3 linked regions of the Homo sapiens genome follow. The protein of the gene in region 1 purifies or fractionates together with the protein of each later gene. This does not show direct contact. Each region holds a gene or a part of one and is shown in the gene's direction. Other genes may lie near its edges.

What was found.
Region 2: the proteins of ATP11C (region 1) and TMEM230 purify together in Homo sapiens (affinity purification with mass spectrometry; one large-scale study listed by BioGRID and IntAct). This does not show direct contact.
Region 3: the proteins of ATP11C (region 1) and PLEKHM2 fractionate together in Homo sapiens (co-fractionation; one large-scale study listed by BioGRID). This does not show direct contact.

What each region holds. Positions count from the first base shown.
Region 1 is NC_000023.11:139,786,515-139,790,165, reverse strand, and holds part of ATP11C (phospholipid-transporting ATPase IG), read left to right. Parts: intron 1-677; coding exon 678-839; intron 840-1,822; coding exon 1,823-1,974; intron 1,975-2,921; coding exon 2,922-2,993; intron 2,994-3,651. UniProt on the Homo sapiens protein: Catalytic component of a P4-ATPase flippase complex which catalyzes the hydrolysis of ATP coupled to the transport of aminophospholipids, phosphatidylserines (PS) and phosphatidylethanolamines (PE), from the outer to the inner leaflet of the plasma membrane.
Region 2 is NC_000020.11:5,106,482-5,110,132, reverse strand, and holds part of TMEM230 (transmembrane protein 230), read left to right. Parts: intron 1-687; coding exon of another isoform or gene 688-702; coding exon 703-801; intron 802-3,651.
Region 3 is NC_000001.11:15,718,757-15,722,407, forward strand, and holds part of PLEKHM2 (pleckstrin homology domain-containing family M member 2), read left to right. Parts: intron 1-977; coding exon 978-1,164; intron 1,165-1,580; exon of another isoform or gene 1,581-1,688; coding exon of another isoform or gene 1,689-1,731; intron 1,732-2,572; coding exon 2,573-2,632; intron 2,633-3,651. UniProt on the Homo sapiens protein: Plays a role in lysosomes movement and localization at the cell periphery acting as an effector of ARL8B.

The sequences.
Region 1 (3,651 bases):
TTTGAGGTTATAGTGAGCTATAATGGCTACTGCATTCCAGCCTGAGTGACAGAGTGAGACCCTATCTTAAAAAAGGTTAACTTAAATGAGAAGCGTTCTTAGTTTGATAAAATAGTCACTTTTTTTTTTTTTTCCTGAGACAGAGTCTCACTCTATCACCCAGGTTGGAGTATAGTGATGTGATCTCAGCTCACTGCAACCTTTGTCTCCTGGATTCAAGCAATTCTTGTGCCTCAGCCTCCCAAGTAGCTGGGATTTCAGGTGTGTGCCACCACACCCAGCTAATTTTTGTATTTCTAGTAGAGACGGGGTTTCACCATGTTGGCCAGGCTGGTCTTGAACTCCTGAGCTCAAGCAATCCTCCTGCCTCAGCCTCCCAAAGTGCTGGGACTACAGGCATAAGCCACCGTGCCTGGCCAATAGTCACATTTTTTTCTATTCATCTTTTACATTTGAGTAGATCTACCTTAGACATGTGATAGCATTTTGGTGTCTTTAAAAATACTCATTTATTCCTCATTTCTTTGGTAATATTGTCTCTGTAATTCCCTGACATTTGACAAGAAGTCTTAGAAGGGGTGATTTCCTATGGATATGAAAATAGCTTTGCGTTACAGCAAACTAAAAATTAGTCACACTGAAGAAACTAACAATATATGTTTGTGTCCTTGTTTTAGGTGGATTATGTATTTACAGATAAGACTGGAACACTCACTGAAAACAGCATGGAATTCATTGAATGCTGCATAGATGGCCACAAATATAAAGGTGTAACTCAAGAGGTTGATGGATTATCTCAAACTGATGGAACTTTAACATATTTTGACAAAGTAGATAAGGTGCATTTGCATTATTGTTTTATATAAGAAACCAATCTGTGTATGCATGTTAACATTCCATAGTAGAAAATAATTTTTAGGTGGACACATGACATAGACTTTTGTGTTTTTGTTTTTTTTTTTTGAGATGGAGTCTCACTCTGTTGCCCAGGCTGGAGTACGGTGGCATGATCTCAGCTCACTGCAACCTCCGCTTCCCAGGTTCAAGCGATTCTCCTGCCTCAGCCTCCCGAGTAGCTGGGATTACAGGCGCCTGCCACCATGCCTGGCTAATTTTTTTGTATTTTTAGTAGAAACGGAGTTTCACCATGTTGGTCAGGCTGGTCTCAAACTCCTGACCTCAGGTAATCCACCACCCTCCGTCCCCCAAAGTGCTGGGATTACAGGCATGAGCCACTGTGCCCAGTGACTTTAGAATAACTATTGTTGGATTCACCTTTCTTGTTTTACTGACACTTCTGAAATTTGTAAATGAGTAGAATTTACAAGTAAAGAGAATTGTGGGAAATGACATTTGGGTAAAAGCTTGCTTGTCTGTATGATCATAATTTTTTGTGCTTTGTCTTTTAAAATGTAAGCTCCTCCAAGAATGATGTCTGTTCAAATGATTAAAGTCTCAGGAGTGTCTAGGCATTAAATTAACCAGAGTCTCCCTACACTTGAGCTATTGCTAGATTGTGAATTAGATACTGAATGAAGTTTTTTAGGCCATGAAGAAGTCACTGCTTTGGCTTAGGTGGTGCCACAATAACCTTAATGAGTTAACACAGCCTATAGGGTATGCTAGCTGAGAACCAGGAACTCTTATTAGGTACTAGGAGAATATATAGCAGATTTGAGTGTTAAGAATTTATACGTATCTGCTACTAAGTTTGTTAGAAGTTACAACATTCTCTCACATTAATATATTTTCTCCGTTCACTGCCTAGTTACCGGGTGATCAAATTAAAAATAATAATCATTATTTTGTTGCTGTTCCACAGAATCGAGAAGAGCTGTTTCTACGTGCCTTGTGTTTATGTCATACTGTAGAAATCAAAACAAACGATGCTGTTGATGGAGCTACAGAATCAGCTGAATTAACCTATATCTCCTCTTCACCAGATGAAATAGCTTTGGTGAAAGGAGCTAAAAGGTAAAGTATACTTTCTTATACTTCTCCTAAGAAAGTGAAATCACAGGAGGACAGAAGTTATTTGTTTTTTTCCGTTTGCTTCAGTGACCTTAGCACATACATCTCCTATTATTTAATAAAAAACACAACTGCTTTAGCCAAAAATTTGTGGAAAATTCCCACACCTAACCAGTTAAGACTAAAAAGAAAATAGTTACAGGTAGGTATTACTTGCCTTACTATTTATGCATGCCAGCCAGAAGTCTGAATGTTCATACTATGTTTTGCAAATAACATAACAGTGGCCACTTTTTGTACAACACATGTTATTTCTGAGGTGCTCCCAGCAATTTTGACATCATTTGAGAACCGAAAGTCCAGTTTTACCCATGAGGTTCAAGATAATTAAGTGGCTCAAAGGTCACCCAGTGTGTTAGCCGTAGAATCAGAAACCCAAATTGTCTCTCCCTTGGTTACAATAATTGTGGCTGGGCATTGACTTTCTCTGTTATCAACTTATCCAGGAAAAGAAAGTACAGTTATATGTTGAGATCATATGAAAGAGAAGAAAAGCATAAACAAGCATGAGTTACCCCATTGAAAGTAATCATTCTAGACCAGGTGCGGTGGCTCACGCCTGTAATCCCAGCACTTTGGGAGGCCAAGGCGGGTGGATCACCTGAGGTCAGGAGTTCAAGACCAGCCTGGCCAACATGGTGAAACTCTGTCTCTACTAAAAATACAAAAATCAGCCGGGTGTGGTGACACACACCTGTAATCTCAGCTACTCAGGAGGTTGAGGCAGGAGAATCGCTTGAAACTGGGAGGTGAAGGTTGCAGTGAGCCGAGATCGCGCCACTGCACTCCAGCCTGGGCAACAGAGCGAGACTCTGTCTCAAAAAAAATAATAATAAAAAAATTAATCATTCTTTAGAGATACACAAGGTCTTTTTTATTGTTTTTGATAGGTACGGGTTCACATTTTTAGGAAATCGAAATGGATATATGAGAGTAGAGAACCAAAGAAAAGAAATAGAAGAGTAAGTAGCTCTGTGTTTGATGTTTGTCATTTCTTAACCCCATAGTCAAATTTAAGTGGATTCAGGCAGGGCAGCAAAGGAAATGATGCCACTAAAAATACAGGACCCTGCTCTCCCAGTTCAGAGTTTTATGTAAATATAGTTGGGGTAGAAGCCATGTTACATAGAATTGCAGAAACTGGAGTTTGAGGTGGAAATTCCAATCTGGTTCACATCTGGGTCCAGTAGCCAGAATGAGAGTTTGCCTGGAATGTTTCTCAAATTTAGATGCCATTTCAGGTCTCTAACACATGCTACAGGAAAAATCAGTGAATATATGTGAAACCTTCTGCTATCTAGTGTCCAAGCAATCACTCTGGGATTGCAAGCCCAGGCAATAAAGGCAGCTTTGCTGTAAACCAGAAGCCTTGTTTGGTTCGGAATGTTCAGGTGTGAGCCTCGGGGCAAGTACTCTGATGCTCCAGTGTCTTCACATTTCCTCTTTTGCCACAAAGACCCTAATGAACAAAGCCACCTTATCTTAATGGTGGATTTTAATTAGGCTCTGTGATTAATTTGAATTTCCTCATCTGAACTTGAAATATAATTATGTTATCTGACTTTCATTCTGGCCCCTAGGATCTCCTGAGACCCATCTCAGAAACCTGTAATATGTTTA
Region 2 (3,651 bases), on another chromosome or scaffold:
GTGAGCTGAGATCAACCCACTGCACTCTAGCCTGTGTGACAAAGCAAGACACCGTCTCCAAAAAATACAAACAAACAACAACAACAAAAAAACCCCACAAATTTACGGCAAGAAACTTTACAGATCTTTTGCATTAAAAGGTTGATCTCTATCAAGGGGAAATAGGCAAAATGCTGATGTGAGTGTATTCCATTCTCTGCCCTCTTCTCCCTCCCTGTCAAACAAGAGAATCATTTGAGTATATGCTCCTCTTGCTTTTTCTTAAGAGCGGGAGCAGGGGACAGGCAATGCTGTGGTGTCAGGTGGACCTAGATTTAAGTCCCCATTATTCTACCTAGTCTCTATGTGACTTTGGAAAAATTAAAAGTCAGGGAATCTTGGTGGCAAAATAAACTGGAATGTGATTCTTGGTGAGTGTCTTCACTGTCATTCTACAAGGACAGACCAGACTAGATATTTAATACATAGTGAGAATCTTTTCACTGTGTCAGAGGCATATCTGGTTTTCCATATGCATATGCCTCTGACACAATGAAAATTTAGCAGTGAAGTGTAAATTGCCCATTGCTAGTCTGACATGGCAGCCCAGAACTCCAGTGCACAGCATCTAATAATCCTGAACTCATTGGCTATAATGCACCATTGTCATCTACAGACAATAACGGGTTTTTTGTTTTTAAACTGTAGCTGTGTCAGCGTGTTATGATGCCGTCCCGTACCAACCTGGCTACTGGAATCCCCAGTAGTAAAGTGAAATATTCAAGGCTCTCCAGCACAGACGATGGCTACATTGACCTTCAGGTAAATGCAGAAGAGAACTGACAAGACTGACTGGCTGTGTTTCTGTTAAGTTAGCAGGAAGACCTTCCAGATGGAGATTTTGCTAACTGTCCTTGGGGATTAGAAGGAGCAACAAGAAGAAAACTCAGCTCTGAGACCCTTTCAGCCATAATCGCAGAAGAGGGCCGTGGCAGGGTAGTTTCAAACCAATTCCAGTATTGTCCATTTCTAAGAATTTTTAGTTGTAATGCGAGAGCCTTGTAGTTACAGGTTTTATTTACTTTATTCAGAAACTAATCAGATTGTGTTTTGTTAAGTGGAGTTTTTTGTTGTTGTTTCTTTTTTTAAGGAACTTTAAAATTTTTGTTAGGTGGAATTTTTTTTATCACTGTTTATTTACACTTTAGTCAAAGCCCGTTCACCTTTTAAGGGAGAAACTTATTACTAAAGCCAGCAGATTGTGGGAATCTTCCTTCTTTCCTGATGTCATGAGATCCAATTTATTAAAGGTATTCTTTGTGATAAATAGTAAGTAAAACACAGTATTTATTAAGTTTGTATCCTACCCTAACCATTTATAAACTAGTCAATACTACAGCATCTCCTTTTGCACACTTCCCCTTACAATAGAATGTTCTACGTGGAACTAGGGCCAACGAGGAAGTAGCAGGAAACCATCCTTTATAAATAAATAAATTACTCTTTGGACCCACATTTGAAGGAGAGATAAAAATAGATCTGGAAAGATCTGGGAAGCTTCCAGCCACTTAGGTCAGATACAACGATGAGCCAAACCTTGGAAAATTTGTCTCTGAATCTTAACCTTGAATTGAATTTGTTCATAAGGCAGGTTTACTTGCTATGTGGAACAAACAACTAATCATTTGGAATAAGCTGAAATTGCCTTCTTTTCCTTTTTTTTTTTTTTTTTTGGAGACGGAGTTTTAGTCTTGTTTCCCAGGCTGGAGTGCAGTGGCACAACCTCGGCTCACTGCAACCTCTGCCTCCCAGGTTCAAGCGATTCTCCTGCCTCAGCCTCCCAAGTAGCTGGGATTACGGGCATGCGCCACCACGCCCAGCTAATTTTGTATTTTTAGTAGAGACAGTGTTTCTCCATGTTGGTCAGGCTGGTCTTGAACTCCTGACCTCAGGTGATCATCCTGCCTCGGCCTCGCAAAGTGCTGGGATTATAGGCGTGAGCCACCTTGCCCAGCCTCTTGTTTTGTTTTGTTTTGTTTTTAAGATGTAGTCTTGCTCTGTTGCCCAGGCTGGACTGCAGTGGTGCAATCCTGGCTCACTGCAACCTCCCCCTCCTGGTTCAAGTGATTCTTGTACCTCAGCCTCCCTAGTAGCTGGGGGATTACAGGCATGCACCACCATGCCTGGCCAATTTTCGTATTTTTAGTATAGATGGGGTTTCGCCATGTTGGCCAGGCTGGTCTCGAACTCTTAACCTCCAGTGATTCACCCACTTCGGCCTCCCAAAGCGCTGGAATTACAGGCGTGAGTCACCGCGCCCAGCCTTTTTTTTTTTTTTTTGAGACAGGGTCTTGCTCTTTTGCCCAGGCTTGGGTACAGTGGCACAATCAAGACTCACTGTAACCTTGACCTTCTGGGCTCAAGTAGTCTTTTCACCTCAGCCTCCTGAATAGCTGGGACCACAAGCATGTGCCACCACACCCAGCTAATTTTAAAATTTTTTGTAGAGACAGGATCTCTTAAATCCCCATAAGTTAGTACAGCCATCTATGTGCCAGGCAGTTAATAAATATATATCTAACAAATGAATGACTGTAAAGTCATTTCTGTTTTTGTTTTAAAGAAAAGTTTCTTATGATACAATGAATGATTTATGGAATGAGATTCGAACTAGAGTGAATGACATTCCTCTGAGATTCCTTTGAGTAACTGTGAGAGCAATAACTAGAGCTTCATCTCTTGCCAGTCCCTTTTATTTCTCAGAGCTGCACTGGGTGGTAGGACATACTTAAGACACATAAAGTATCTAGTTTGGTTCTTAATTACCCTCCTGTTTTTGCTGTTGTTGTATTTGAAACAGGCTCTGGCTCTGTCACCCAGGCTGGAGTGCAGTGGTGCAATCTCAGCTCGCTGCCTCTTCACCTCCTGGGCTCAAGCCATCCTCCCAGCTTAGCGTCCCAAGTAGCCGGGACTGCAGGCACATGCCACCACGCCCGGCTAATTTTTGTATTTTTTGTAGAGACGAGGTTTCACCATGTTGCTCAGGCTGGTCTCAAACTCCTGAACTCAAGTGATCCGCCTGCCTCAGCCTCCCACATTGCTGGGATTACAGGTGCGAGCTCTCCTCCCTGTTTTAAAGTGTTTGAGACTGGGCTTGATGGCTTATACCTGTAATCCCAGCACTTTGGGAGGCAGAGGTGGAAGGACTCCCTTGAGCCCAGGAGTTGGAGACCACCCTGGGCAACATAGTGAGACCTCGTCTCTACAGAAAAATTTAAAAATTAGCTGGGCATGGTGACGTATACTTGTAGTCCCAGCTACTTGAGAGGATGAGGCAAGAGAATTGCTTGAGCCCAGGAGTTCGAGGCTGCAATGAGCTGTAATTGCACCACTGCACTCCAGCCTGGGTGATAGAGCAAGACTCCGTCTCTAAAATCATAAAAATTAGGCCGGGCGCGGTGGCTCACGCCTGTAATGCCAGCACTTTGGGAGGCCGAGGCGGGCGGATCACCTGAGGTCAGGAGTTCAAGCCCAGCCAGGTCAACAAGGTGAAACCCTGTCTCTACTAAAAATACCAAAAAAATTAGCTGGGTGTAGTGGCGGGCACCTGTAACCCCAGCTGCTCAGGAGGCTGAGACAGGAGAATCACTTGAATCCAGGAGGCAGAGGTTG
Region 3 (3,651 bases), on another chromosome or scaffold:
TTGTTTTTTTGGGCGAGGGAAAGGTTTCAGGGTCCATCGAATTGAGTGAGAAGAGAAGTGATGGCAAGAATTCCTGGTTCAGGTGACTTTTTCCTATCTCCCTATCCAACTTGGAGAAAAGCCACATTGCCTGGAGTATCTTAGCCCAGAAGAACTGGCCTTCATGTTTAGGATGTGAAGAGTTAGAAGGACAAGGCAGTTTCAGCCTGGTGCTTCTGGGGTTCTGAAAAGTGTCATCAGCTCCATGAAGAGCCTTCAGCCACCCTCTTCAAGTTCTCAAGTTTCTCTCCCCATCACACCCTGTACAAATGGGATGCTGGCCCACATAGAGCCAAAGAGGCTCCCAGGCACCTCTTGGACTGGGCTCAAAATGGATGCAGCTGCCCCGTCCTAATCAAATGACCTTCCTTGGGCCAGGCGCAGTGGCTCACACCTATAATCCCAGCACTTTGGGAGGCTGAGGTGGGTGGATCACCTGAGGTCAGGAGTTCGAGACCAGCCTGGCCAACATGGCGAAACCTCGTCTCTACTAAAAAAATACAAAAGTTAGCGGGGTGTGGTGATGGGCGCCTATAATCTCAGCTACTTGGGAGGCTGAGGCAGGAGAATCGCTCGAACCCGGGAGGTGGAAGTTGCAGTGAGCCGAGCCACGTCATTGCACTCCAGCCAGGGCAACAGAGTGAGACTCTGTCTCAAAAAAAAAAATAAATAAATAGAGAGAGAGAGAGATAGCGGGGGCATCAAAGGGTGTAGCTGAGTTCTGACAGCTCTGTCTTCCATCAGCCTGAAGTCCACAGCTTTAAAAGCCAACACTATTCACATTGCTCTTCTTAGCAGCTTTTCTTTGAATTTACTACCTTAAGCCATTGATTTCCCAAAGAGGCACATCTGTGTCTCCCAGGCCTGGATCCTGCTGTCTGCAGAAGGCCGCTGCACGAGGCCTCCCACCAAACGGGCCTCCTCTACTCTCTCCTCAGGATGCCCCTTACCTAGACCTGGCCCCCTACATGCCCGACTACTACAAACCTCAGTACCTGCTGGACTTTGAAGACCGCCTTCCCAGCTCGGTCCACGGCTCAGACAGTCTGTCCCTCAACTCTTTCAACTCCGTCACCTCCACCAACCTGGAGTGGGATGACAGTGCGATTGCCCCATCTAGTGAGGGTGAGTGGCCCCAGGGCAGAAAAGCTAAGCCCCTGTTGTGAAACAGACTTGAACTGCTTAAGCCTGGCTGGGTGATGTCTTCCTTGGCTAGTTTTGGTCTGGTGGCTGAAATTTGCAATTAAACAGGGCTGGCCATTTCCCAGATCTTCATCTCCTCAGAGTCCCTGTGGTGGCTAAAAAGTGGATTCTGGGCACAAAAAGCTGAAATTATATATATATATATATATATAAAATATATATTTTTTAAGGTTAGACCCTTTTCCAGAAGGTTCTAGTCACATGCCTGTGGCAGTTTTCTAAGCAAGGAAGGTTTAGCAGTGGGACCTGGAAACCTTGTCGCAGGGTTGAGTGTTGCCTGTTCTGGGGAGCTTGTCTGACCCCACATTCTTTGCAGAAGGAGGTTAAGCAACCCCTAGAAGAAGAGAGAACCAGGCAGGTCTGAAGCGCAGGGAAACCTTGCCACTGTGTCCTGTGTGTCCGTCCGATTTCTCTGAGTTCCTTCTGCGCTCGCTGATGTGTTTGGGATGGTCGCACCCTTTGCATCAGGGACCGAGGAAGAAGCTGCAGGTCATTTTGTTGTCTTGACCCAATGATTTACTGGAACAGCCTGGTTTCTTTCAAACCTTAGGCCCTGGTGTTCATGGATAAAACTGGCCATTTTCCCCTCTTTATCTCCTGTAGGAGACCAGAGCCCTTCATTTACTTCACCCCACCACCTCACCTCCAGGGAAGGGGATCCCAGCCCCAATTTAGCCCTGGGGCACCCTAGAATTGCCTCAGCATTGAGACCTTGACCTTCCCCTTTCTTTATTTCTGCTGTACCACGGGTTATATGTCCCAGGAAGGGAGGTCCCTCTCAAACTTGCTGTTAGCAAGACCTGCATTGCTGACCGTGCAAGCTGAAGAAGGCGGCACAGTCTCCTTAGGTTGGGCCCATGGGCCACCTTAGAGGAGTTGGAGGGGTGGGCCTTGCCGGAAGAGCCAGGGCAAGGATGGATCCATGGATGGAGGTGTCCCCTCAGCAATTTGGAGATTGTGCAACTGCAGCTGCCAGGGCAGTGTCTCCTTGCCCTGCTAGGGTATGGAGGGAAGGCACGTAAGAGGTAGAAAACAAAGCTAGGCACAGGCAGCCAGGCTTCTCTCTGCCAGAACCAGCTTCTGGATGTGGAAAGGGGTCACCCTGACAGGTCTTTCCAGCTGGTTGGAGGCTCCTGGGCCAGCGCCTGAGCTGAGAGGCAGTCAGGGCCCTAGTAAGTTTCCCCAAGGTTGTTGGATACAATGTAGAAAGTTGAAGTTTTCCTCTCCTATTTTCTCCCCATGTCTCCCACCCCATTTCCCCTCCCCTCCCTCCAGTCATCCTTCCACTGCCTGTGTTTCTAATCTTCAGTTTTGTCCCTCGTTTTTGTAGATTATGATTTTGGAGATGTGTTTCCAGCAGTGCCGTCTGTACCCAGCACAGACTGGGAAGGTGGGCCAGAGTCCGCTGTTACCCTCTTTTCCTGTTTTGCAATGTTTCCATGCCAAGCTTGCTGCATGTATCAAATCAGCTCCTTATTATTTATAATAATATCCATAATCATAATAAAGCCAAGTTTGGTGTTCTAATAGATGGAATTCTGCAGTGGGAAAACTCAACCTCTAGCCATAGGCAAATCCCTTCTCCCAGTGCAGGGCTCCTGCCTTTGCTCAGTGGCCTTTCGGAGTCACTAAGTGGCTGCATTTCGGGGGATACAGGGTCACCCTTCCTGATTCCAGTGCCAGCTGATGCTCTCGGGGTGTGTAGGGCCTGACCCAGTGAACCAAGACTTGTTCTGGAAAACCATGCCTTTAAACATGCGGGTTGTAAGCTCCTGCGGGTCAGATGAGCATCGAAGAGAAAGAGCTTGATTCTTTCAGTCTGTTCCTAATGGCTTCCTCTTGGGTGTTTTGGAGTGGTTGAGGTCCAAGTCAGGAAACTGCCCAGGTACAGCTGAAACTTCCTACAGACAGAATCTCTTTGAAGCTTTAAAGCAGATTAAAAGGAAATCTGCCAGCCCTCCCACCCTGTCTGCTGGGCAGTAGCAGTGCCTGGGCATTTTTCTGCCTGAAATTCCACTTCATAAATTCACAAAGCTATTCCCAGGTTGCCACGATTACTCAAAGCAAAGGCTATGTTGCCAATAAGGTGAATGTTTCCCCCTTAAATCTGAGGCCATAGCAGATCCCTGTTATTTTACTTTATGTTATTTTATTTTACTTTTTGAGACGGAGTCTCGCTCTGTTGCTCAGGCTGGAGTGCAGTGGTGTGATCTTGGCTTACTGTAACCTCCACCTCCCGGGTTCAAGCAATTCTCCTGCCTCAGCCTCCCAAGTAGCTGGGATTACAGGTGTGTGCCACCACGCCCGGCTAATTTTTGTATTTTTAGTAGAGACAGGGTTTCACCATGTTGGCCAGGCTGGTCTCAAACTCCTGACCTCAGGTGATCCACCCCACCTCATCCTCTCAAA